3 linked regions of the Homo sapiens genome follow. The protein of the gene in region 1 interacts with the protein of each later gene in a pairwise test. Each region holds a gene or a part of one and is shown in the gene's direction. Other genes may lie near its edges.

Evidence for each region.
Region 2: the proteins of KCNJ6 (region 1) and UPK1B interact in binary tests that used the Homo sapiens proteins (3 or more experiments, as listed by UniProt).
Region 3: the proteins of KCNJ6 (region 1) and LPAR3 interact in binary tests that used the Homo sapiens proteins (3 or more experiments, as listed by UniProt).

What each region holds. Positions count from the first base shown.
Region 1 is NC_000021.9:37,619,450-37,626,478, reverse strand, and holds part of KCNJ6 (G protein-activated inward rectifier potassium channel 2), read left to right. Parts: intron 1-994; coding exon 995-1,320; 3' UTR 1,321-7,029. UniProt on the Homo sapiens protein: Inward rectifier potassium channels are characterized by a greater tendency to allow potassium to flow into the cell rather than out of it.
Region 2 is NC_000003.12:119,190,579-119,197,607, forward strand, and holds part of UPK1B (uroplakin-1b), read left to right. Parts: intron 1-403; coding exon 404-526; intron 527-3,640; coding exon 3,641-3,820; intron 3,821-7,029. UniProt on the Homo sapiens protein: Component of the asymmetric unit membrane (AUM); a highly specialized biomembrane elaborated by terminally differentiated urothelial cells.
Region 3 is NC_000001.11:84,883,197-84,890,225, reverse strand, and holds part of LPAR3 (lysophosphatidic acid receptor 3), read left to right. Parts: intron 1-7,029. UniProt on the Homo sapiens protein: Receptor for lysophosphatidic acid (LPA), a mediator of diverse cellular activities. May play a role in the development of ovarian cancer. Seems to be coupled to the G(i)/G(o) and G(q) families of heteromeric G proteins.

The sequences.
Region 1 (7,029 bases):
TGCAAATTACAAAAAGGCTTCTTATCTTTAAGAAAAGGGAAAAGTGGCCAGGAGCAGTGGCTCACGCCTGTAATCCCAACACTTTGGGAGGCTGAGGCAGGCGGATTGCCTGAGCTCAGGAGTTCATAAACAGCCTGGGCAACACGATGAAACTCCGTCTCTACTAAAATACAAAAAAAAATTAGTCGGACATGGCGGTGTGCACCTGTAGTCCCAGCTGCTCAGAAGTCTGAGACAGGAGAATTGCTTGAATCCTGAAGGTGGAGGTCGCAGTGAGCCGAGATCGCACCACTGCACTCCAGCCTGGGCGACACAGCGAGACTCCATCTCAAAGAAAAAAAAAAAAAAGAAGGGGGAAAAGCTTTTAAAGTAGTTATGATTGCACAGTCTGAGCAACTATGACCACTGGGCCTAAGTAAAGTGCAAATTCAGGTGGGTGACCCTTCCAACTGCATCTGGAGCCACAGTCATGGCCTGTGTGTTAATGGCAGGTGGGAGGGTAACACTGATCTGTGGCCTCTAGCTTAAAAGCAGCCTAAGTGTAGTTCCATATATGAAATTTCATTCTAAGTCTGTGGCCAAAGAGCTCAAATCCCATTAGAACCCAGGCTAAACCTCCAAGAGCAGTAGGAGGCCAGAGTCATGGCTTCAGGGTTCTCCCAGAGCAGAGTGGACCAGACATAGCCATGCACATGCGAAAACTTGTGTGCATTTGCACACTTGATTTCCTTTGCATGTGCATGGCCATGCAGGCAAATGTGGCTTGATGTGGGCCAGGACTCTCTCATTGTTCCCCAGGACTCCCTTAAGAGGCCTGGAATCTCCATGGCACATTAGCATGTGTCTACAACATGAATGACACCTACTAAGTGTGGCATCGTATGCAGGTCAGTCTCAACAGCTGCATGCAGTACTCCTCCTGGCTCTCTGTGACTCCTTGGCCATGGAAAGCCCACACTTACATATGCTAAAGCCTCCATTCTTCTCTCTGCAGGGATGACATGCCAAGCTCGAAGCTCCTACATCACCAGTGAGATCCTGTGGGGTTACCGGTTCACACCTGTCCTGACCCTGGAGGACGGGTTCTACGAAGTTGACTACAACAGCTTCCATGAGACCTATGAGACCAGCACCCCATCCCTTAGTGCCAAAGAGCTGGCCGAGTTAGCCAGCAGGGCAGAGCTGCCCCTGAGTTGGTCTGTATCCAGCAAACTCAACCAACATGCAGAACTGGAGACTGAAGAGGAAGAAAAGAACCTCGAAGAGCAAACAGAAAGAAATGGTGATGTGGCAAACCTGGAGAATGAATCCAAAGTTTAGTGCCCTAGCTGGGCAAACCCTTCTCTTCTCCCCCCAACACAATCTTTCCTTGTCTCTCATTCTCTTTCTTTTTCTGTCTCTCTTGCTTTGTTCTTTATTTGTTTATATTTAATTTTTACATGACCAGAAAACAAATCTTCAAGGTGTAAAATATCTACCTGCCCTCTCTCAGTTATTCAGATTGACAAGGTAGACATGGATTTGATGAAAGTGCAAAGTGCCCTCATTTGTGGCCCAAGCCTGGTCTCCTCCCAAAATACTACACATCCAACTCCTGGAGATTTCAGTTACTTACCTGCATGTGTTGTACAATACCAGATCACTCAAAAAGGTGTGTCAAAGATTTTACCTGGGATATGACAAGCAAGGTTTCTGGTGCCTATTTATTCATTCAGTGAGACACAGAGTGGAGCCCTCAGTTTTATGGATCCCAATTCATTTCATCTACTACAGGGTGAGGTGCTTGCCCCCATGTGGGTGTGGCAGTTACAGGGCCCAGGTGAGCTGAAGACAAACCACTGTACATATATATGCCTTATGTAATTATTTTCTTTTTGTAATTAGTAATAAAACCCAGCATGTACAAAAGTACCATAGAACAGAACTGCTAAATACTGTACATAGATGTATCATTAATGTAGGTTTAGATATATAACTTTAGAAATAAGAAGCAAAAAAAAAAAGAAAGAAAGAAAGATTCCTAACATGCAGTAGGCATTTCTGTTTTGATGTCTGTGTTTTCCAGGTTATTTTGATCCAGTTGACGGCTGGCCCTTCAGTGCATGGCCTTTGTTTGTGTCTCAGACTGGCAGACGTTAGGGTACCTCACTGTTCCCACACGGATCCTTTCATTGAATCCAACAAGCCATAGGTCTGGGGGAAATTGAGAGGTCTGGTAGATGGCAAAACCCACCACCAATATGCTGATATACTGTGAAATGTTACAAAACAGATGTCTTTTTTTAAAAGATAACAAGGGCCTCACTAACTGGCCTGGAGGAGGGGGAATACCAGGAAGGAAATATTCTCTAGCCTGTCACCAAAGGTATGTTTTTACTTTTCACATGAGCTCTTGCCCTTTGTAGTACAATAATTTAGGAAACTTTTCTGCAAAACCATTGATTCTCCAGCTGTAGTTTCTCTACACTCTTACAATGAGACATGGTAAGTTAGCAGAAGATGGTTTGGGTCTAAAGCCGTGAAATTCACAAAGGCATGTAGTGAGTGGCATGCATTATAATCATCGACCTCTCACTTTGACTCTATCTGGCTTTCTGAGAATGACATCTCGCCTGTCCCTGGGGCTTATCCATCAGCATTTCTTGCATTGTGATCTTTTATTATTTTGAAATGACCAGAGTTCAGTATTCAAAGATTAGATCAACAATCTTGATGATTGTCTAAGAAATGTCTCTAGAGTATGCCACAGGCTAGAAATCAAATCCAGTGTCTGTCAATCAAAAGAAAACAAATAAAAAAATTCCAGCCTTAATTCACTTTAATCTGCAAAAAGGAAAGAAGGGAGGAAGGGAGGGAGGAAGGAAGGAAGGAAGGAAGGGTATTTGTACTGGAAATCTGAATTTTAAAATGAAAAAAATAAGGAAACAAATCTTAGATCAAACCTCCGGGGCAGGTGGAGATTTTGCACTGTTACAGATCTTTCACATTCACTTTGCATTTATAAGCTGTTTGTTCTTTAACACAGTTGCCCATCATAAATATTCATTGAATGGATCCAAGTTTATTTTCAGCTCCTACAGCTGTGCTCAGTTTGAGGCTCTGCACCATGGAGGTCAAAGAGATCAAACTAGCTGTCCCTCTTTGTTTCCCTTGCCTTCCCTGACCTGATCGCACAGGCCTTTGGTGTAGTCTGGGGACCTTGTCTACTAAAAAAGAAGTCCCAGGATAAGGAAAGTGGCTCCTAAATATAACCTCGGGGCCTCTCTTCTCCCATCTCAGAGACCTTGGATCAGGACAACTGCCTCTTGGCACTGACTTTAAGGAAAACAAAACTGTTGGCTATAGCCCTTTCCTGTTTGCCAGCATTTCCTTTTTTGCATTGAATCTCTGTTGAATCATTTCTTTATTTCGCACACTCTAAGAAGGAGGTGGTGGTCCGGGAGGAGGAAGCTCGATACACTCCCCTTGAGGCTGCGGGGAGGAGCCATGGCTTGACCTCTCTGCAGCCTAATGAAGGGCACTCTTGGCTTGGGGAGCTCCCCTGCAACCTTGCCAGGGTCGCAGGGCAGGCCATGGCAGGCACAAAACAAGATGGAATAGGGGCGGCAAAATGTCTTCTAATTTAGCTCTTGAAGACTCACTGGGCCTTTTTAATTCCATTGCTAAGGTTTAAAGGACAGCGCACACCCCCGTGTCTGGTTGGAAGAGCAAGCAGCTCAGGGCCTCATCCCTGCTTGCCTGCCCTTTAGCACAACTGAACGAAGAGCCTTGACAACACGTTGGCCACGTGCACCTGTCAGTTCTGTGTCTGTGACGGGCACCCAGATGTGAGGTCTCTCCCTGTTTCTCACTGTCTTTGTTGTCAATGTAGTTGGAGACAGAACTTGAACCAAATCTCGTTTTTGTAATGTGAGCCTCTGAATCTTTACATGGGGATGCTCCTGAAGAACCTTTTACTAGAATGTCCCTATCAAACATGTCTATTTTTCTACAGTTGTTAACACAGTTTAACAGTGTATTTTGTGTCAACTGTTAAAATTTGGAACTGAAAGTTCATTGAGACTGATTTTCTAAGCAGCGAGTAGTGAGTGAATGGTGTTTTCCATTAAGACAGCTCAACAAAATTGACCCCACAATTTCCACTCATTCTATTCCGCAATATCCAGTCCTCATTCCCTCAGTCACTCCATTAGCAAACCAAGTGCAATGAGAATTTTTTAAAAGTCTCTTTTAATACAACAGTATCCATAACTAATGAAGATCACTCTCAACTAGATCCTTTGGTCTGTTTGGTTAATGTATTTGAGTCATTTTTCCATAAAGCATGGTGGGATCCGTGAGCCAGATAAGAATTTGGAATTTAAGGGTTATGGTTTGCCACAGTTGACCCCAATTTGACAGAACAAAGTGCTCCTGGATGGAAGGGCAGGTTCAGCTGCAAGCATGACCCCCCACCACAAGGCTGCTGAGTTCCTCGGATTCTCACCTCCACCCACCCCAACGTGCTCTCCAACTGGAAGAGCACCCATTCATTTATAAATCAACTTTATGGAACCAATAAAATCATTTCTGTTTTAGCTGTCCCCTGGGTAAGCTATACTCTTTTACATTAACATAGCAAATGTCAACTTTTCTGTTCCTTCAAACATGGCCTTCCAGCCTGGTTGTTCCAGCATATATCCCCTCTATGTCCATGAGGCAGAACTCTCTCTTCCCCCACTCCGTTCTTCCATCTATCCCCATCCTTTGCTGTTTCCCTGGTTCTCCAGTTCCAATTCTATTGTTTTAGTTCAGTACCTTATGTTCCCTAACAGAAATCCAGCTGCAAATGTCAACCTATTTCTTAAGCACAATTTTCTCTTGCAGGTCTAACCAAGCTAGGGCTCTGAAATGTCTATTTTTCACTGCACTCCAATTTAAAAATTATTCATGACTTCATTTAATAGTCTAAATTTTGAATTCTCCAGAGCAACATTCTTATGCTTTCCATCCCTACATTTTCTTACATTTCAGTTTTCTTACTTTTTTCCCCTTTGCTTTTTTATTTAGATTTAAGCCAGTGTCTTTGGGATATTTAGAAACTGCTTACAAAGGTGGGAACTGGTGGACAGAGAAAGGGGGCATAAGAATGCTATTAGAAAACTACCTGAACTCACCAGAAGAATGGGAAATCATTTGATTTGCTGAGAGAATACAATTAAAATACTCATAGTAAATCATTTCCAAAACAGTTTGCTAATAGTCTGGCTACTCTTCAGTCTTTCTTTCCTTGACTTGGGTGATACTCTGTATGATTTAAAAATGTCAGGAAGGTAGTTGAAAGTTCAGTGTCCTCTATATATTGTAAACATTATCTTCAAGGATGATTTCCTTTCAATGGATGGCTTTAACATTGAAAAACATAGGTAACATATACATAATAGATGATTCATTGATATTACTTTACAATACACTAAAATAACATTATCTTGTTTCTGAACTTTATGGCCAACCGGTATCTAAGAAAATGTTAGCCTTTAATTTAAAATTGAGTAAAGCACGCCTCTTCCTAATATTTCTGCCTTTAATGTCTTGAGTGCTTTAGATGCAGAGTGTCATCTAGAAGTCAAAATTCTGTCAGAAGGCTGCTAAGAGATTTTGATAAATCACAGAATATATAATAATAACCCAACAATATTTTACCCAACATGGTGTGGTGTTTGAGAGCATTAAGAGCACTTGTACAAATTATCTTATTTCATTCTAATTCACCATGAGAGGTTGAGTATTATAATTTACATTTTATAGAGGGAAAACTAGGGTTTGGGCAAATTGGCCAAGTTTAAAGGCCAGTGAATCATAGCTCCTTGTCTCAAATCCAGGTCACAGGGCCCTAAGCTGTGGGCTATTTTTACTACAAAAAATTTCAGCAAACCAAATCTGCTAAAAAAAAAAAAATCTGGCCTGCTGCCTGTTATTGTACCACTTGTGAGCTAAGAGCAATTTTTACATTTTTTAATAATTGGGGGAAAAAAAAGAAAAGAAGAATATTTTGAGACATGTGAAAATCATCCTAAATTCAAATTTCAATGTCCACAAACAAAGTTTTATTGGAACACAGCCACAGCCATTTGTCTGTGTATTGCCTATGGCTGCTTCCACATGCACTCACAGAGCTGAGTAATTACAACAGAGACCGTGTGGCCAGCAAAGATTGAAATATTTACTATCTGGCCCTGTATAAAAAAAGTTTGCTGACCCCTGTACTGTACTGTTAAGTACTATTGGTACTATTAAGTACTAGTAATAGTACTATTAATAATAGTATGTAAGAGTACTAAGTACTATGAAATATTGTACTGTACTCTTAAGAGAGTCCTAGGCAATATAGAAGAATGACTTTTTTTCTAGCATAAATTATTGAAGTCACTCATAAGTCTGTTCAAAATAACATAACTCTTTTTTTTCGGTTGTCAAAGAGACAACTGCTTCACAAGACTTAGAGAGCCCAGTCATTCAGTTAGGGTCTCAAAGGAAGAATCCTTCCTTTTCATGCCATTCCTCCAGAGTGGCAAATAGAGTCAACAGCCAGCCAGGATCTAGCGGTCAACTCAGAAAGTGGATACAGTAAAATTACTCCTTAATGAACTACAGAGAAATGGGCATTCCCAGCCCAGCCGCTGAAATATTGCTTCAGTGGCACCCTCAGGCGTTGGATGATGTACATAGCTCAGGCTGCCAGTCTCTGCTCAGCAAAGCAGCCCAGACCTGCAGTGGTTGCCACACATCAAACCCGCCTCGCTCCTCCACATGGCTTCTCTCTTAGGCTCTCTTGGAGGAGAGTTAAATAGGTGGCCCAGATGTCTCCCTCTGTTTTCTTGCTAGTTTTCTCTAGCCTACAGTTTACAACTGATCAAGGTGATGAACGTGAACCTGGAACTAGCTCATGTTTAATTGCGCTAGTTTTTGCTCTCTCTAGCCACTAAGCTAGAAGTTTAATGTGTAATTAAAGAACTAAATGCTTCTTATGGAAAACCAAAAGGTCCTTTG
Region 2 (7,029 bases), on another chromosome or scaffold:
CCAGATGGCCTGACTCCCAGGGCCCAAGTTTGTAATCCCCTGTGGGTTTCACCACTCTGCCATGGCCATGGGCCTTCCAATGGGAGGATCTCTGTTCTACCTCAGCTAAGACGTGCTCTCAATTCTACATCTTTCTTTCTCTCCCATTCTCTGTTTTCCTAGCCTAAGCCACCCTACAGTATGTGTTCCCCTGGCCTCATAGTGATTTCTTTTAAGATGAGAGTCTCTTCTCTGCATGGGGACTTATGCCAACCTCAGCCAGCTGTACTTGGTGCCTCTGAGTACAGTTTTGCTCCAGGAGAGAATGTTCAGTGTCCCCAGGAAAAGACAGAGAAAAATATTTTCCTCTCCTTGAAAATTAGCGTGCTATCTCTCCCTCTTGTGTTGCCTCTTCCTACTATAGTTCACACCCAACCTCTTCCTGAAGCAGATGCTAGAGAGGTACCAAAACAACAGCCCTCCAAACAATGATGACCAGTGGAAAAACAATGGAGTCACCAAAACCTGGGACAGGCTCATGCTCCAGGTAAGACCTGTGGTCTTGGGGAGATGCCATTTTTACTTACTGGTGGGAGTGGGTGTCATACACATGACTCAGTGGGACCCTATATTTTATTTCAAGCCATGATGATTAGCTTACATTTGTTGGAATGATTTTGTCAAGAAACTTAGGTTAATCATACACTCTCCCTCTTAGAACTCAGGTATCATTTACATTAAAAGAAAAATATTTTCTCTACCCCACAGTGAACTCGAGTGGTAATTACTGCCTGTTTCGCCTTTTGGGTACCTCTTCACAACTCCTGTGAGCTAGTCTTGCCAAGGACCAGGCCCTATATCTTGATTTGATCACCCAATTTTCTCCAACTGGCAATCATAGTTTATGTCCATGTTTATCTCCAGTGCCATCAAAAGTCCAAGTCTTCCAGAATATCCATCATCACCCCCACATTGCCCTCTGTATGCAAATTGTTATCCTCTACATAACTACCAATCTGACCTAGCTTTCTTACTGGCCCCTGCTCCTACTCCACACCCCACCACCAACTTTTTACAGTCTGTCATCAGCAAACTCCCTTATAGCCACCACTCCTTCTATGAACTCTTTACTATCTTTTTCTTGCTTCATTGGAAATTTGGCTATCTCCTGGGAGTGCTACCTGCCCTTCATTTTCCTCCCATATCCATGTACCATAGGACCTGGAAATTGGCTAGGTGTCCTTCTTGCTCCCCTTGGCTGCCATACTATTTGCTTCCTTGATCTACATCACCCCTTATCCTTCCTTGCCATTACTTACCAGCCTCCCTACCCTCAGTCGTTCTCCTGCCTTCATTAGGGATTTCAATATCTCACTTAACTATCTACCTCTTCAGTCATACTCCTGATATCCCACCTAGAAACTTCAGCAGCCACATGGATGACTCAGCAACATTTAGTCTCACAATTCCTTGTCCTACCCCATTCCAAAGATTTTGTCTTTCTCCCCACCTCCACCCTCTTCCATGACCATAGTCAGCATGCCATCACCAGTAACTGTGCCACTAAGAACATTCCATTCTCTGACCATTAATTTCTATCATTTCTTTCATTTATTCTAATATCTCAATTCTAATAATTTTATTCCATTAGGACCTCCAATTAATTGACCACTTTTTAACTTTTATCACCCCTTTCATGTTTTCTCTTTCCTCTTTGCCTAACCCATATTCAGGTCCAGCCCCATAGCCAGTCCTTCCCTACCCTTCTCTGTGGGTCACTCTTTCCTAACCAAGCCCACCGAGTAGAATATAGCTTTTTGCTCACTCTTCGTTTATACTCTAAGAGCTAAACATTGCTGAGAAAAGTCACACAACCATGATCATTTCAATTTAAACTTGTGACCACAGAGCTCAAATGGGCACACAATATTTCCTAGTATATTTTCCCAGAAAATTCACTTGTCACTATTTCACATGTTCTTCCTTCATGCCTGCCACACCTCTTCTCACCCTCCCTCTCAGTTGATGACCCGACCTCATATGTTTTTAAGAATATAGAAGAAATTAGACAAGAACCACCTCATCTTTCTACCACCAAATCTACATTGATATACACCTGTGCACTTTGCCTTCTCTCTTGTTATGTCACACAGGCTGTCCTTTGTCCAGCTCTTTTGATTCTGTTCTGCATTCCATCTCCTTTGCCCCAACAGTCTTCCCTGCTCTGATCTGCCTCATCAGTTTCTCCCTTTCAACAGCCTACATGGACACCTTAAATTGTCTATCTTATAAAAAGACTCCCTTGTCCAACATTCACCCACTATTCTGTCCTACTACTGTTTTGTTTTATTCCACAGCAAATCTCAGAAGAGATGCCTACACTTGTGGTCCCATTTTCATCCCTCTCATCTGCTTTCATCCAACTACAATTGGCCTCTGCCTCACCACTCAACAAAAACAACCCTGCCATAATTACCAATTACCTCCATCCTGCCAAATCCAATAGCCAAGTCTCTGTCCTCATCTTCTTTGACATCTTATCAGCATTTGTCTCACTGACTACTCCCGCTTAGTCTCCTCTGCTGGGTTGTCACTCTTTACCCAAATCTGAAGCTTGGAGTGCTACAAAGCTCAATTTTGGACCCTTAAATCTTCTCTGTGCCCACTAAATCCTAGTTTGAAATAAGCCTGGCTTAGACTTAACCATTTTTCCCAGAATGCAGAATAATTATTTTTCTTGGTTAGATATTTCCCATAACATAGTGACAAAATTGTATATCCTTTAAAGATGGTTGATTTATCATCAAGTTTACTTGAATACATTCATTCTAAAAGTTCCAAGATACCCATGGTTTTAACTTCCTCCCTTTTGAAGGATTTTAGGAGAATTGATAACAAAGAAGGAAAGCTATATGAATTGTGTTTTGTCCTCTATTCTCAATTCTATCCAGAGTGTAAGGGATGTATTAATTGGTCTCCCTCCCCTATGTGGAGACATAGCTCTGTGTCACCAGGTTATTTTTTTCACTTTATTTTCTCCCATTATAAAAATAATACCTAATTACTCTAAAAAATGTTTAAATGTATAGAAAAGCAAAACAAGAACAATTACTCATAACTTCACCACTAAAATTTTTAATTTTATGATTCTCAATTTGCTTTGATATAATCTTTAATTTTATGATTCTCAATTTGCTCTGATATATCAGAATAATTATTCCTCTCTCACATTGTTATATCAATATATTAGTACAGTATCAATCATAATTAACATTTATTAAGAGTTTACCATAAGCCAGGCACTGTATTGAGCACATTAAGTATATTAACTCATTTAATCCTTAAAAAAACTCTATGAGATAGGTACTATATTCCAATTTTACAGTTAAGGAAACTGAGGCTTAGACAGTTTAAGTAACATGTCAATGGCTACAGGGTTCACTAATGACTAGTAAAGTAGGAAGTGTAAAAATTCTTTTACAAACTGTAAAATGTAAGTTGTAAGTTATCAATACCTTCAGCTGTCATTTGGGGATTTCTTAGTAAATGTAAGATATGGTACACTTTCCGTATCTTCTTTCTCTATAAAATTTCAGTTGCTACATTGATGGCTCTAGTAGGGACCACGAAAGAGAATTTTGTATCTCTCATCTGCTGACAGGACAATTGCTGTGGCGTAAATGGTCCATCAGACTGGCAAAAATACACATCTGCCTTCCGGACTGAGAATAATGATGCTGACTATCCCTGGCCTCGTCAATGCTGTGTTATGAACAATCTTAAAGAACCTCTCAACCTGGAGGCTTGTAAACTAGGCGTGCCTGGTTTTTATCACAATCAGGTGAGTCCTCTCTCCTCCCAAGACTTCCCAGGAGGTTCTGCTGCTCTTTATGAGAAAAATATTGGTCAACTGTAGGAAATAGTCTTTCAGTAAGGAATTCTACATTCTTTTCCCTAAACCTCATGTTAACTATTTCCTTCTCTGTTAATAAACTGCAAATGCTAAACCAGGACTGATAGGGGCAAATTTACATTTTAATAAAATTAACAAAACATGAGAATTGCAATAGCAGAACCCAACTTTGTTTAAATGAAGACAATTTGCACAATGTATGGAATTGGTATGTCAAGAAATATTTACATTAAACAAAGTTTTGCTCTAGTTTTGCAAAATGTAAATTGGAAGGGATGATGTGCAAAAAGAATGTTTTGCCAATTCCAAAGCAATGACTATTGCTGAGGATAAATGTAGTAATTACACATCCACATTCCTTATTCAATGGTAAAGTAGGACAGTCTTAATAAACATTAGGTTGGTGATTTGGATGGAAGGTAGTTTACATACAGATAGTTTTTGAAAAAGTTTCCAGGCTGATGAGGATAATGTGATTACGATCATGAAAACTAACATTTATTGTGTACTTACTAAATGCCAAACACTGTTTCCAGTGCCACACATACACTATCTCCTTTAATGCTCAGTAGTAGGTGCCAGTAGGATCCCTGTTTTACAAACGAAGAACTTAGACGTAGAGATACTAATAAATACCTTGCTGAGGTCACACAACTAGTAAATGTCCGTCTTTTCAAAAAACTCTCTGGCTTTTGAAACATGAGTTTTCTGCCTTCAAGCACAGACTCTAAGCCAGTGAAGACTTGTTAATATTCCCCAAAAGCCCTGATGAGAACCTCCAGGTACTTGTAGTCAGCATCTGCTGACCCTGTACACTGAAACGCTGTGCTCTGCTCAGGGAGTTACCTCTTTAAGGAAAGCTAGTTGTGTACCAGCTCATTAAATAATTGAGAAATGTCAGGCTGTTTTGTTTGGGAGCAGTACAAACTGCATGTTCAGATTGAGGGACATGGCACTGTTGCTGACAGGGTGCCTGGACTAGAACTGGATGCATTATTCCAGAAAAGGGCATGGGAGTGTTCTAGATTATTTTGCAGCAGTGTCCAGAGCAACCCTCATTGAGCTTTACTGCAACATTGTCTGGCATTGTTTTAATCAATTATATTCAGACTGTTATTAAAAATTAAATTTGCTGCTTATAATCAAGGTGTACAATATAATTATTCTCAGGACTATAAAAGGCTTTTGATATTTCAACACTGGAACTGCTCATGCAAACAAATCTTGATTGGATTGTAATTGTGTACAAACTGTATTACCTCTTTGAAAGGGATAAAAATAGGACATTTGTCTTCAGATAACCAGTTTATTTCATAGTTATACCTTTTTTCCTAGCACATATAATATTTTAGTTATGAGGACAAACCTGAAGCTTTTCTCAAGTTTAGATAGATGAGAAATTGAGGAAAAGATACAAATGAACTATTTTCCTCTACCTTGGGACCTCCACACCCATTTTGACAATGCTTCTAACACGTTCCCTTACAGTTCCCTGGCCTCATCTGTTCTAACAATTCCACCTCCACTACCCTACAGTTCCCTGGCTTTATCTGTTCTAACAACTCCACCTCCACTACCTACCAACTACAAATTCATCATCACTCAGCCCTACTCCTCCACCAAATTCCTGAATTCTGAAATTCCTCTCTCTGTTCCTGACTTCCTGTGCTCCTTGTTTCTCAACCTCACTCATTCTGCTCCTTTGACATAATCTCTTATCTATTAGTCCTTTCTGATTCTCCCTAGCCCAGCCTCCCAGATTCCCACACACCACCATTCTCCCTGACTCATAGGTCTTGCTAAGTCCCCTCTTGCCATCCTTTTCCACCAAGAAAAAGGTGCTACCCCAAGACCTGGTATACTTTATTTCTATTATTGCATTCACTACCTGGAACTATATTTGTTCCCAAGTCTATTTTTTCTGAGTCTCCTTGAGGACTATGTATTATTTGATTCTACAGATTTGATATTTTTAGTACTTAGCATAATGCCTGGCACAAAGCAAGCACCGACGTTTGATAGATGGGTGAATAAAGAAGTGAATAGTGAATGGTTTTTCTTTTTCTTTTTTTTTTTTTTTTTTTGAGATGGAGCCTGTCTCACTCTGTCGCCAGGCTGGAGTGCAGTGGCGCTATCTCGGCTCACTGCAACCTCCACCTCCCAGGTTCAAGTGATTCTCCTGCCTCAGCCTCCCAAGTAGCTGGGACTACAGGTGCACGCAACCACACCCAGCTAATTTTTGTATTTTTAGTAGAGATGGGGTTTCACCATGTTGGCCAGGATGGTCTCGATCTCTTGACCTTGTGATCCACCCACCTCAGCCTCCCAAAGTGCTGGGATTAAAGGAGTGAGCCACCGTGCCCAGCCTGGTTTTTGTTTTGTTTTGTTTGAGAGACAGGGTCTCACTCTGTCACCCAAGCTGGAGTGCCATGCTGCAATCACAGCTTATTGCAGCCTCAAGCTCCTGGGCTCGAGTGATCCTCCTTTCCACCTCAGCCTCCCAACTAACTACAGGCATGTACCACCAGGCCTGGCTAATTTTATTTTTTGTAGAGATGAGGTCTCACTGTGTTGCCCAGGCTTCACTTTTTGACAACCATATTGTAGGTTTTCAGGATCTACAATGCACAAATGTGCTGCTATAGCTGTGAAGACTAACAAAATTAGGGAAGTCACTATAAGCTTGTTAATAGTAGAAATTAACTAGAATTTCACACAGCATGTCAGATGCAAATATATATATATTCTATGTTATGGTTTATGTGACTCAGAAATGCTATGTGCAAATTGTGATCACTATACCTCAAAAATGTTATAATAAAATGAAGGAAGATCAAGTAAAGTACCACTAAATTGACTAGCATCACGAAAAGGCACTAAATGATGGTGAAAAAAATGGGGCTTCTGTCTGTGAGCTTCATGAAGGCAAGGCCCATTTCTGTTTGCCACAGCTAAATGCCCAGCCAGTACTTGGCACCTGGCATAAGTGGGCCCTTATATATATATTATTAGATGAACGACCACCTCCCAGGATTGTTGGGAGGACCAAGGAGTAGCAGATATGGGAGTGTTTTGTGAACCATCAAGTGTGTTGCAAATTATACTATTGTAAACATTAATGTTCCATTCATTCTGTA
Region 3 (7,029 bases), on another chromosome or scaffold:
CTTCGTCATTCCTCCTGCAGGTACTGAGCCTCCCCCTTTCCGGCCTTGATGATCCTTTGTTCCTCATCCTGGATTCTGTATTTGTGGAGGAGTCACCTGGAACTCAGTCCTGCTGTGGATGGCAGAGGTGGTGATGGGGCTGGGGAGCTATCTGCATAAGTGCAGAGACTTTGTGCTTTTACAAACGGTGGACTAGAGGTACTTGGAGCACAGGGTTCTGTCTTTGAATCCTAGTCCCACTTTTGTGAGTTCTTGTGACCCTGAATAGATTGTCATGTTTAAGTTTTTTTCATTTATATAGTGGGGATAATAATTACTTTTCTACCTGTCTACATGGATTGTTAATGAGTTCCATTAACTTATGTACGTGAAAGAGCTTTGTACCCTGTGAAGAGTGCATAAACATTGGAATTAAAGAGGCAGGACATCCAGATGTGGGCCACCCCAGGCAGGCCCACTCAGCTCTGGCTATTGGGGGTTGGCAGTATCTCCACAAGCATGTTTTGAGTGCTAAGGGGGCACTGCTGCAGTTCTTCCATATTCCTCTCTCCCGTCCTCTGACATCATACTGGACTTCGAGGAGGAAATAGCATCAAAGGTTGAGAAACTGCTCTGTGGGGAATATGAGAGGAAGTTAAATTTCAGGACTGAGGTTACCCAACACTACATGATCGAAGGCATAGGGCAAAGTTCCAAAGAAGCTTTAATTTCGTGTTGGAATTACCTGTACTGTCTGCGCATCTCAGTTCTTAGTGGACAAACACAAACAGCTGGCCACCACCCATCCCACAGGTCAGGAGGAGGGTGCTGATGGCAATGTTGGACAATGTATTGGGTCCACCTATACCATCCTCACTCCCCTGTGCCTTCTTGCTGACTTGGGTCTCTAGTTTACTCTGCAAAGTTCTAAACTGACCAAAGGCATTGCTCCCCCACCCCCAAATTAAGCTAATTACTTAATTCAGTCTGAAAGATATTTGTTGCTCTCTACCTGTCCTGGCAAGCCAGCTGGAGGGTGGGGGAGGGGATTTAGTACCATTGAGGGGAAGGTTCTGACATCCTGGGTTATACCCACCCCTCTCTTCATCACCCCCAGTCTTATGTCCTCCTCTTTATTCCTCTTCCTTGGCTGGCCTCTTGTCCTGTGTATCTACAACCTTGAACTCCTCCCTTGCCCATGACCCCTGATACTGCCCTACTCCCATGATTCTGTCACCCCTCTTCAGATGTGAATCATTTGTACACCTCAGGCTGGGCCAGACTGGGTGTCACTGTGGAAAGCAACCTGCCCAGCACAGCCTGCCCCACCCCTTCCTGAGGATGTTCATCAACCCCTCTAATTACTCATCAGCTAGTCCTGTGTCTACATTGTTCCCTGGGACATTAAGCTGGAGCTTCTACTAGCCCTGGCCTTGACTCACCCATGTGCAGATTGACCAGTTATCAAGGGATGGCTTGGCAGGTGGCAGGGCTGGGTTGGAGGGCACATTAGCCCCTCCATAAGTGCACTATTTGGTCCAAAGGCCTTCCAAGCAAACATGCGGTCTAAATAAAAGCAGTGTATTTGCTTTATAAATGCAGCTTTAAGGCAAGCCCCTGGTCTCCCCTTTTAAGCCAAGCTATCCCGAAGCACATCCTCTGTAGAAATTCTGGAGCTGCCCCCAGACAGACTCAGACCATGTAATTCAAAGATAGGCAGCGGAGTCTATCAGCAGCATTCACTCCCTAAGGAGGTAGAAAGCCAGAGTTAAGACTCAAAGCCATTGGCAGTGACTAGTTATAGAAAACCAAAGCAAGGGATCAAGTATAGAATTTATTGGGAGCACATCAGTGAATCATTTACCTCCTGCCCTGTTTGATTTTTAGTAAGTCAGTTCGTCGAATGGGGGTAAGGAAGGCCTTTCTCTGGACAAAAACTATCACATGGGTCTGGTGAAGAGAAAATAAGTAGTATAATCTTTTTCTATGTCTCCATGGCATTAGGTTTGAAATCTCAATCTCTCCCTCTCTCTCCCTCCCTCCTTCTCTCTGTCTCTGCCTCTCTCTGTGTGTGTGTGTGTGTGTGTGTGTGTGTATGTATGTATATATATATATATAAAATATACATCATCAGTCTTTATTCTGAGAGGAAGTCATAGACATTATTCTCCATCACTCTTGAAAACACTCCAGCATAAAAAAAAAAGCAAGCACTCTGTCCTCCTATATAACCAGCGTACACCCATCAAATCAGGAAATGGACATTGATACAAAACACTATCATCCAATCCACAGAGCCCATTCCTATTTCGTCAGTTATCCCCCAAATGTCTCTTCTACCTGTCTGATCTAGGATTCATGTTACATTTAGTTACCATGTCTCTTCTGGAACGGTTCCTCAGACTTTCCCTGTTCCTAAAGTGTTTGCAGTTGTATAGGTCCTACATGCTGTAGGATGACTCCCAACCTGGCTGTATTGGGTATTTCTTCACAGCCTGACTGAGGTCATGCATTCTTGGCAGGAATCCTTCAGAAATGAAACTCAGCTCTTCTTAGCTTCTTACAACAGAAGGCACATGGTGCCAACCCATCCCACTGCTGGGATATTGACCTCAATCACCTGGTTATGTTGGTGTTTGCCAGATTTCTTCACCTTAAATTCGCCATTTTTCCTTCGTTTCCCTTTGTTTCCCCAAAGGTGTTTGAAAACACCTTTGTACTAGTGTTTGTGGGGAACTATTCTAGGGTTATGCAAATAGCCTGTTCCTCATTAAACCTGTACCTACAGAAACTACCATTTATTGATGACGTCTGCCTGAATCAGCCACCTCTATGAATGTTGCCAAATGGTGATTCTTTTTTTTTTTTTTTAAGACAAGGTCTCACTCTGTTGCCATGCTGGAGTGCAGTGGCATGATCTTGGCTCACTGCAGCCCCAACCTCCTGGGCTCAAGTGATCCTCCTGCCTCAGCCCCCCAAGTTGCTGGAACTACAAGTGCACACTACCACACCTGGCTTATTTTTTTTTTTTTGTATTTTTTGTAGAGATGGAGTTGGTTTCACCATGGTGCCCAAGCTGGTCTCGAAATCCTGAGCTCAAGTGATCCACCTGCCTTGGCCTCCCAAAGTGCTGGGATTACAGGCATGAGCCCCTGCACCCAGCCTCAAGTGATGATTCTTTATCACCGTCACTCTTTCTACATTTGTTAGTTGGCATACTACTATAAGGAAGAACTTTATTTTTCTGTTATGTTTTTACTAAGAACTGTTCATGGATTCCTTATGTATTCAATAAGTTGAAGTCTCACGATTGTTTTTTATTTTAATGCTCAAATTGTGCTCAATTTGGCCAATGGGGACCCCTTGGAGCTGCCTCCTGTGTCCTTTTAACACATCCCTATTATTCATTGAGCATTTCTTTATTTTCTGGCTCCACCAGATCATCTGGACTCATCTTCTACTTTCCTTGACCTAGTTAGGCCTCCCTTTTAGTAGAGAATGGTACTTTTGTCTTATTTATATTTTATATATTTAAGGCATACAACATGATATTTTCATGTATTTATCTTGATAAACATAGATGTAATGAAGTAATTACTACAGTCAAGCAAATTGACATGCCCATCATAGTTACCTTTCTTGTGTTTGTGATAAGAGTACCTAAAATCTACTCTCTTGGCAAATTAGCAGAATACAATATTTATTAATTTTAATTTTTTTAGAGACAGGGTCTTGCTCTGTACTACAGGCTGGAGTGCAGTGGCGTGATCATAGTTCACTGCAGCCTCTAACTCCTAGGTTTGAGCAGTCCTCCTATCTCAGCCTCCCAAGTAGCTAGGACTCCAGGTGCTCACCACCATTCCCGGCTAATTTAAAAAATATTTTTTAGAGGAGGGGTCTTGCTGTGTTGCCCAGGCTGGCCTCCAACTCCAGCCTTGAATCATCCTCCTGCCTTGGCATCCCAGGTGCTGGGATTACAGGTATGAGCTACCATGCTCAGCCTCAATACAGTATTAGTAACTGTAGTCCTTGTGTTGTACATTAGTGGAAACAGGGAAAAACAGAAGATGTAGATTAAAAGGTACGAAGTTGCAGTTATGTAGGATGAATAAGTCTTGAGATCTAATATGCAATATGAGAATTGTATTTAGACACCAATACATAGGAGGTTGATGTGCCCATTGTTACTGGGGTATTATTGCTTCTAGATCTCTCAGAGGACAGAGCTAGGAAATATATGTGTATATGTGTACACACATTTATAAATTTTTCTATATTAGGCTGTGTATTATAAAATCATGATTCATACTTATACCTACAATTTCAATCTAACACCCAAAGAGCTTTCTGTTCTTCCCCCTTTATATGTTTGTACATATCTTCTCTGGCAGTTAGAAAACCTGACTCTCATTATCTTCAATATTTTTGCTTATTTGCATACAGTAACCAGTCTTACAAATGTGAAGGTCATCCTGCCTCCTCTGTGTCCACCACCTTTGCCACTGCCTCTTGTCCTCGGCTGCCAGGCCTGCTAGCCTGTGTCTCTATGTAGCTTAATCATCAGTCTCCAGTCCCTCTAGCTCACAGCTCTTCCCAGCCATAGCTCATGTCTCTATGTACCTCCCCAAACTCCCCAGCCTCACGTTGCATTCCCAGCTACATGCTGATTGCTGTGTTCTGGGGAAGGAAGAAAAGAGAAGGGAAAGGAAGAAAGAAAATAGGAATGGAAGGAAAGCAAAGAGGAATAGTGTATATATTTTAAAGTCTCATTAGATATTGCCAAATTGCCTTCCCCCAAAGTTCTATCAGTTTACATTCTCACCAACATGTTATGAGGGTACTATTTTCCCCACATTCTTGCCAACACTTGTTGGCAAGTAATAGCCGCTTGTTTAAATGTTATCAATCTGATAGCACTCCAGTTTTAGCTCTATTACAGCTCTGCCACACTTAACCCTGTATTATATGTCTCATCTCACCCTCTAGGTCAGGATTTCTCAACCTTAGCACCACTGACATTTTGGACCGGATACTTCTCTGTTGTGGAGAGCTGGCCTGTGCATTGTAGCGTGTGCAGCAGCATTCCTGGCCTCTGCCCGGTAGATGCCAATAGTACCCCCCTCCCCCAAGTCATGACTGATGCAGATGTCTCCAGATATTGCTAGGAATCCCTGGGAGGAGGAGAGGATTGGCCCTGGCTGCTCTAGATAATGAGTTTCCTGGGGGAATTTTGCATCTTTACACATGTCTTCATGCACTTCTGTCTTTGACGTACATATGCTGAACAGTGAGAGAACGTTAGCTGGACAGGGATGAGAGGAATAAAAGGTTAGGTGGAATCCACTACAACAGGACCAGTGGAACTTGTTCACTGCAAGTATGCAACTTTCCACAAATGCAAATTCCAGGAACATCCAACAGAGGGAAGTGAAGAGGAATGTCAGCAAGGTTAACTTTCCATGGATTGCTACCAGGTTATTACTTGTCTTTCTGAGTTCATTTTTGCCCCAGTTTCGTACAGACAGACAATGAGGTCTGTGGCCTATTTCAGCTGATATACTCTGTTTTGTTGATGGGGAAAGTAAAATGCTTTAGGAGAAGGTGTTAACATCATTTAACATTGTAGAGGTAAACTGAGTTTCTTCTGAGCTTTCTCTGAAACAGGCAAACTGACTAATGGTTGCTAATTTCTATGATGCATTTAGAGTTTTACTGTGATATTTTCATTTGATTATATAGATTTTCCTCCATAAACTCTTACCAAAAACTCTAAGGAGAGATGTGCTTCAAGATTTTTATTGACATTTACCACAATCATTATGTTAGAAATGCAAAATGCTTGTTCCCCGGTGCCACAAAGAAATAGCGCTTGAACATAAATTTAATTCTCTCAGCAAGGCAATTTTTACTTTCTGCGGAAAGGGTATACTCACCAGCAGTCTTGCCACGAGAGTACACCAAACAAAGGAAAAGCAGACATATTTATCCCTTACACATTTGGGTTGTCCTCACTGCTGTGTCCTGCATCCACTGGCTGGAGCCGAACCTCACAGTCTAAACTGATACCCGATTTGCTAAGAGCCTAAAACTTTTTTAGATAGGTAAAGGCAAGGGAGAACAAAGGAAAAGAGGAAGTTGCTTTTGAAAAATTTAAAGAAGTAATAACATTTCCAAATAAGAAAGGGGCATAGGCTGTGAGCTGGAACATGCCTGTGAGCATGTCCAACAGCTACATGCTTAACAAAGAGTTATTAGCACAAAGCAAGGAGGCTTGAAGAAAAATTTTAAAAGAAACTATTATTTCTAACATTTATGATTTATTATTTAACAAGAAGGGAAACTTTGAAGAGGAAACTTTTTACTTTCTGCAATTATATTTCTTCTAGATTCAGTAAATGTTTGCAAAAGGCATTAATGTCATTATGGAGAACAAATCTACGTCTTACATTTCTCTGGGGGTCAGGTGGCAGAGACTGCTTCCAAAAAGAGGCTCCAGTGGTCAGTATTGTTTAAAAAAAAAAAAAACAAAAAAATCCCTGGGCCAGAAGGATGAGGGCTGGTCAGGGTGAATCAGTCCCCAATTTCTACATTTCTTCTCTGTAAAATGGAGAATGCTGAACTGCCCATCTCACTGTGGGATCAAATGGGGAAAGAGATGTAAACTTTGAAATTTGTTCACTAGTATATCAGTGAATGTGTTTTGGTGGATTACTCCAAGATCCTGAAGGAGTGGTTTAGAGGAAGTATGGTAACATAGTAAGAATGTTAAACATTAGGTTTTCAACCCAGCTGGCTAAACCCCTCTTTCCTGATTGTACACATTCATCTGGGACTCTGGGACTAAAAGGTAATGAAAAACACCAGCTAGTGACTCTCTGACTAGATTGGTAGAAGAGAGAAGGCTTTGGCTTTAGGGTGTTATTGTGGTGACCCACCCAGTGTGAGGGAAAGGATTCTTCCTTTGGTCTCCTCTTCCCAATATTCTCTGTTGGGGTCCCTTTTCCCCAGCCTTTTGGGAACAAGCTCACCGTGGAGCTCAGTGGACTTTCT